2 linked regions of the Homo sapiens genome follow. Each later gene encodes a partner of the first gene's protein in a complex. Each region holds a gene or a part of one and is shown on either strand. Other genes may lie near its edges.

What was found.
Region 2: PPFIA1 (region 1) and ERC1 share a complex: the UniProt entries of both Homo sapiens proteins name them as parts of the cortical microtubule stabilization complex.

The regions. Positions count from the first base shown.
Region 1 is NC_000011.10:70,381,537-70,384,964, forward strand, and holds the end of PPFIA1 (liprin-alpha-1), read left to right. Parts: intron 1-551; coding exon 552-610; 3' UTR 611-622; intron 623-1,466; coding exon of another isoform or gene 1,467-1,492; 3' UTR 1,493-2,860; downstream 2,861-3,428. UniProt on the Homo sapiens protein: May regulate the disassembly of focal adhesions. May localize receptor-like tyrosine phosphatases type 2A at specific sites on the plasma membrane, possibly regulating their interaction with the extracellular environment and their association with substrates.
Region 2 is NC_000012.12:1,022,031-1,025,854, forward strand, and holds part of ERC1 (ELKS/Rab6-interacting/CAST family member 1), read left to right. Parts: intron 1-3,824. UniProt on the Homo sapiens protein: Regulatory subunit of the IKK complex. Probably recruits IkappaBalpha/NFKBIA to the complex. May be involved in the organization of the cytomatrix at the nerve terminals active zone (CAZ) which regulates neurotransmitter release.

The sequences.
Region 1 (3,428 bases):
TCCTCCCCAGGAGAAAAGGGCACCGGCTTCCCAGACACCCAGCTAGTGCTGGGTAGCAAGGTTCTCTCCCTCCTCTTAGACTGGTCTTGTACCCGACGTCGTTGGCCTCTGCGCTCAGTGGGGCTGGGCAGCATCAGCAGTGCCGCTTGGTGTTTCCTTCATACCAGTGTTAGAGATGGAGCACTTAGGGCAGGGAGAAAGCCCCATTGGTCTATGAATGCAGAGTTTAGTAAGAGATAAAGGGATCACTCTAAGTAGGGGTCATTTATGCAGATGTACATTTTGAAATTGTTACTGTACCATTTGGTGCTTGGTATTTCGGAGTAGTGTTCCAGAGTCTCCCGGGGCTCTTTGGGAGCTGGGGAGAGCCACCACTGGGTGACACTTGGATCTCTCTGGCTCCATCCCGCCCACTCAGGCAGCTCCCCTCAGGTCCCTCCGTAGGCACTGCTGTAGGTGTGAAGATGTGTGTCTACTTGTGCCCTCATGTGATGTTCTAAGACTAACTGCACGCTGTGTTTGCACGCTTCCTCTCGTGGCTGTTGAAACAGGCAATGTATCAGGAACACAGAGGTTGGATTCTGCTACAGTCAGGACTTACTCCTGCTAAAGTCTCCTGTTGGTGAGTAGAGAGCACCACAACCCCTAGAGATGGCTCAGAGGCACAGCAGGAGTCATCGGAGCTGCAGTGCCAGACTAGGGGTGTGGACCATGAAAGCCAGTGCAGTTTTTGGGGAATTTAAAATATATATAGACACAAGCTCTCCGTACCCATTAAGATCATTTTGTTGTTACAATTGATCATAAAGAGGTTAGTGTGTCCTCTTTTTTTAAGGAAAAAAATGTATTTTCACCTTTTCCTTAAACCTGAAAATGCTGACTCATTTTAATTGTCTGTGGATGTCATGGGGGTGGAGTGGGGAGGAGAGCAGAGCATGGCAGAGAGCGTCAGGGGAGAGTCTCTCCTCCTGACGTCGTTATGCACATTGCTGTGATTCCTAAGCTTGCTTTGTTTTAAATACACATTCTTGAATGAAACAAGCCCAAAGTTTTGTGGTTAATTATATATTATACTAAGTGTGACACTAATAGCCTTTCAGTTTGGAGAGACTGGTTCTTAAAACTGCGGACTCTGGCTGGTGAGTGGCCCGCCCTCTCCTTGCTGTTCTAAGCAATTTTAAGGTCTCCGTTGGAATATTTGACTGGTTTGTTCATCTTTTATTTGTAATTGGTAACATGGAGACGTAAGCCAAAATGAAGTCAGCCAAGGAGCTGTCTCATTGATGTGCATAGCCCTTGATGTTCTAGCCAGTGATTCTCAGAGCAGCTACGGCACAGAAAGTGAGGGGTCCTGGAGGGGAGGGGTCAGTGTCGGGGGGACGTTTGGGCCCCAGCATCAGAAGTTCCCGTTCGTCAGTATGGCCCGGCCTGTACTGAGTGGTTTTTTGTTTGTGTTTATTTTCCAGTTTACCCACACTACTTCTACAGATGATTATGCAGCATTTGAATCCAACAAAGACTACATTTTGGAATCCAGTGGAATCTTTAATCTTGTTAATACTTGTTATATGGACCCTAAGATATTTTATTACAGAGTTTTTAATTAGTGAAAAATTCATGAATACCATAGAGAAAATATTTTAGAATTTAATGTTTCTTATATTTATGTAAACTTATGACTCTTCATTTATATAGTTACTTACTTTTTCATGTATATCCAGGCTATAAATATCCTTTCAAATCATGTTCTTATACCTAATTTTAGTCTTTCAAATGAATGTACTGTAATGCTTGTATGTATAAATCCTATGAATAGAGGGCTTTTGTAAATTATGCATTTATTGTAATTATCATTAATTTTTTAATGATAAACCATGACAAAGGATTTTACGTTTATAAAATTATGACAGAAGCCATGTGCATTATCCTTTACGGACGCAGCCTAGCTCTACAGCAATCATCCTGAAATAAGCATACCTAATTTCAAGCAATTGTTGTATTTTCATGACTGACCTTAACTGTACTTTTTCTAGCAAGAGATGCTTTATTCTGCAGCATGAACAGATTTAAAATGGCTGGTGTTAAATATCAGCTCCTAATAAGATGTGGACTGAAAACACTATCACAACACTATGAGAAGCCCCTAGCACTGGTTAACGCTTTCCTAGCCTAGTCTCTGGATTTGGGGAGCTTGTCTTCAGTGGCTGAGACTGTGAGCTGGGAGCAGTTCTCTCAGCTGGAGAGACTCGGGATGGGGTAACCTGGGGACCAGTCTAGCCCCTGCACCCTCTTCCCTGCCTCTGCTCCTTGGGAGCGGGTGGAGAGACACCCATGTGGCTCCCCTTAGGGCCAGCACCAAGCACCACGCTCTCATCCTGCAAGTCGGCGCACACAGTGGATGAAGGCAGGAGACCCAGAAAGCAGTGCAGTGCAGCTCTAATAAAGGCCTTATTTTTCTTATGTAAATCATCTTTTTACATTTGTTTGTAAACATGTTTAAAGAACGAACCTAGTGGGACATTTTTAGACTTTGATGCTCTAGCCATTTTGGATTGTGTAAGTTGCAGATGTGGCTTTTACTTTTTAAATGGCATATTAACAAGCCAGCAAAGTGTGTCAGACCATGGCGTGGTATTTATTGTGCAGCAGATCCAGAGACAGAGGCAGCCTGTCTTTTCAGTTGGTTTCTGCTTTTAATTTACTTGTACAATTCATTGTTACTGTTCTGTTTTTCTATTAATCTTTTGTCAACTTCCTGATTATGTAACAAAGTATGTACAGTCTACTTTTGAACTATTTTTATCACAGTATTATTTATTGCTTTCTTTCAATAAAGTACTGAAGCATTTTCCACTGCCAATGAAGAATACTGAGAATAAGCTCTAACTGTTTTGGAAGGCAGTGTCACCATATGGAAATTGTATTACAGAAGTCAATTGACAGAATAAAGCAGCCAGGAGATGAAGTGCAGGTTCAGGGCGTCATCCTGCCCGCTGCTCTGGAGGTCCCGAGCCTGCATCACTGCAGGAGACAGGTGCCTGGTGTTAAATTGTTAAATGCAAATGTGGGGGCTCACATACACAGTCGGTGGGTAGGGCCCAAAGGCAGAGCCTAGGCCGTGGACCGCGCGCATGCACGCATGTCCCTTAACACCGTTTCCCAGCTCTGCTTCCTTCCTCGGTGCTGGCTTCACACTCCCACCTGCTCTCCCTGCCTGCTCACAAAGGTGGCTCCCAGGCCTGCACCCTTCCACACTGATGGCCTCTGGAAATCAGGAAGCCTGGTTCCCTAATAGCTCACATCCGGTCCTGAGTTGTGAAGCAGCCCAGGGTGGCAGAGGGGAGGCGACACGCTGACAGGCTGGGGGAGTCAAGCAGGGCCCACCCATGGAAGTTGGTGAGCTGAGGCTGAAGGGCTGGAAGCTGATG
Region 2 (3,824 bases), on another chromosome or scaffold:
AATAAGCTATACATTTTATTTTCTGTTCTATTTATCTGTTTATTTTAGAGATCCTATCTCTATTCTCCTATAGATAGGATCTTGCTATGTTGTCCAGGCTGGTCTTGAATTCCTGGACTCAAGCAATCCTACTTCCTTGGTCTCCCAAAGTGCTGGGATTACAGGCACAGGCTATTGTGCCTGGCCAAGAAGTACATTTTATATTGTGATCCAGTATGCACATGTGCATGCATATGCACACCTGAAACATTGCAGAAAACAATACTGTTATCTCTTGTTGCATTACAATTACTTCAGAACTTACTGGATTTGAAAAACAAACATCTCAGATTTCATGAAGAGTGTGTTGGGTGATTCTGGCTCAGGGTATGTAGTGATTTTATTTCATTTAAAACAAACAAGAAAACAAGCTTGGTTGCAGCTTATCAAGCTGATTTCACAACCTACTATTGGGTCATAATTCTAAGTTTGAAAAACACTGACTGGGGACTGTTACCGTTTGGCTGTGTCCCCAGCAATCTCATCTTGAATTGTAGTTCCCATAATCCCTACATGTTGTGGAGGGACCTGGTGGTAGCTGAATCGTGGGGTCGGTTACCCCATGCTGTTCTGATAGTGAGTGCTCACGAGATCGATTTTATTTTTTCTTTTTTGAGACAGAGTCTTGCTCTGTCACCCAGGCTTGAGTGCAGTGGCATAATCTTGGGTCACTGAAACCTTTGCCTCCTGGGTTCAAGTGAGCACGTCTGGGTAATATTTGTATTTTTAGTAGAGATAGGGTTTCACCATGTTGGCCAGGCTGGTCTTGAACTCCTGACCTCAAGTGATCCACTGACCTTGGCCTCCCAAAGTGTTGGGATTACAGGCGTTAGCCACCGCGCCCAGCCTAGATCTGATGGTTTTGTAAGGGGCTCTTCCCCCTTTGCTTGGCACTTCTTCCTGCCGCCATGTGAAGAAGGATGTGTTTGCTTCCCCTTCTGCCATGATTGTAAGCTTCTTGAGGCCTCCCCAGCCCTGCAGAACTGTGAGTCAATTAAACCTCTTTCTTTTATAAATTACCCAGTCTTATGGGTAGTTCTACATAGAGCTTGAGAATGGACTAATACAGGACTCTGAGGCTAGAGGCAGGCAGTCAGGTTAGAAAGTTGTTTTAATTCAGGTAGGATAGGATGGCATAAACCAAGGTAATAATTGTGGGAATGGAGGAAGAGGATCAATTTAAGAGGTACCTAGAAATCAAAGCAACAGGAATTGTATTGTTTTGATAATATGTGTGTATATGGAGTATGAAGATTTTGGGAGGACTCTCAGGCTCTGGCTTGAGCAGCTGATGTTATTCATGTGAATAGATGTTGTCCACTACCATGTTCTTTTTTTGATTTTTTTTTTTTCCCCTGCAGCAGCAGGTTTGGTTTTGGAATGGGGAGACCTTGATACGGAGTTCAGTTTGGGGGCATGGTGTATTTGAGGTGCATGTGAGGAGTATAAGTGAAGATGTCCAGAAGTGGGATACATAGTTTTGATTCTCAAAGGAGAAGTAAAAAAGTACTGGAGAAGTAGTGAATTTGGAGTCTTTGTTGTACATATGTTATTTTAAGCTGGTGGAGGCAGGGAGAAAGGATTTCTTAAGGATGATATTGTAGTGTGAGAATAACATAGGGATGAAGATCAGAAACATTTAAGGGAGGAACGAACAAAGAAGGAGGAGGGTTAGAAGAAAAGAGCATATGATATAAAGAAACCAAGAGAGGAGAGTGTCAAAAAATTGGGAGTGCTTAAGAAACAAGATGTATTATAGACAGAAGTTAAAAAGGCATTAGAGAGGAAAAGTGTTCATTAACTAAGGTTTCTCTGGAGAAGCCAGAGGGAATGGGGACTAAAGTACCCTGTGGAAGGATTAGCTGTAGCCCACTTCCATCAGAATAGAGGAAGTTAAGGATGGTTGTTGCTGTCAATGAACATGTGGAGAGAGAAAGTTGAGATAGTTCCTGTTTGATTTCTTTGTTTCTCTCTTATGTAGGAGATGAGATACGTAAATTTGATAGGGCTGCTGTAAGAAAGTACCATCAGCTGGGCACGGTGGCTCACGCCTGTAATCCCAGTACTTTGGGAGGCTGAGGCAGGCGAATCCGTTGGGCCCAGGAGTTCGAGACCAGACTGGGCAACATGGTGAAACCCCACCTCTACCAAAAATACAAAAATTAGCTGGGTGTGCTGATGCTCGCCTGTAGTCTCAGCTACTCGGGTGGCTGAGGTGGGAGAAGTGCTTGAGCCTGGGAGGTTGAGGCCACGGTGAGCTGTGATTGTACCACTGCACTCCAGCCTGGGTGACAGAGGAGACCTTGTCTCAACAAACAAAAACACAAAACATCTCCCGCCTCTCCACCCCGCTCCCCCCACAGGTTTGAAACCACCTGCCTGTTATTTCAAACCACCTGTGTGTTCACATTTTTGAGGACTTTTAACCTGTTTGACCAGAATAGATACTGTCTTTAGAATCTCATTTTTGACAATATGATTTACTTGGTACTGTTTTCAATGAAGAAACACTTATAAGAATCAATTTACATAACAATGGATTTTGGGAAAATATTGTTTAATATGCTGAAGCCTGTTGTTACTTGACCTAAGCCAATGCTTTGAAATGATGCTAGGAAATCAGAGAGATCTAGTTTAGATCTATATTGTCTTTGAAAGAAGTCTATAAAGTTGATAGCTATAGTTTAGTGGGTTCTGCATCCACAGCTCAAACCACCTGTGGACCAAAAATATTTGGGAAAGAATCTTAAAGTCACCTTGAAAAAAAAAGTGGAAAAAAAAAAAAAAAGAAAATACTTGGGAAAAAATAATACAACATGGAAAAATAATACAAATAAAAAACACAATAAGTATAACAACGATTTACATAGCATCTACATTTTATTAAGTATTATAAGTAATTTAGAGATGATTTAAAGTATGCTGGAGGATATCCATAGGTTTTATGCAATTACTGTGTCATTTTGAATCAGGGACTTGAGCATCCTGGGATTTTTGTTGTCTGGGGCAGTCTTGGATATCTGGATACGTTCTACTGGAGCCAGTCCCCAGCAGATACCAAGGGACAACTGCCTGTGGTTTTAAAATTTGTTTTAGTTATACTTGTAGAGTATGAACATGTTTTCTTTTTTGAAAAAAAAATTCAGGTGCTTTATGGTAGTTTGAGTGTAAAGCTTTCTAAGTTGAGCTAAAGCCTCCACAAACATTTTTCCCCTTTATAACACAAGTTTCCTTCCCTCTAATTATCGCTGTTTCAAAATTGGCATTTCCCGTGTAGGAATTCTTTACATACTCTGTTTACAGATCATTATACTTATGTTCACTGTATTTTTCACCTAGCTTTTGGTTTATCTTTTAATTTTATTTACAGCATTTTTTGGTATAATACTTTGTCATTTTGACATAATTAAGTGTGTTGGTTGTTTTTCTTTATGGTTTTTGCTTCTGGTTTTTTATTTAAGAAGCCTTTTCCTAACTCAAGTTCACAAGGATATTCTTCAAAATTTTCTTCTAGTACTTTTAATGGCTTAAAAAATTTATATCTTTAATGTATATGGAATTTATTTTGGTGTACTATGTGAAGACGAGTATACGTTATGTTTCTCAAAGAGCAACAAGTATTTAAACTTCATTTATTGAGTGATTTTTCATTTCCTCACTGTATTAGTCTGTTCTCATGTTGCTAATACAGACATACCCGAGACTAGGTAATTTAAAAAGGAAAGTTTTTTTTTTTTTTTTTTTTTGAGACGGAGTCTCGCTCTTGTCACCCAGGCTGGAGTGCA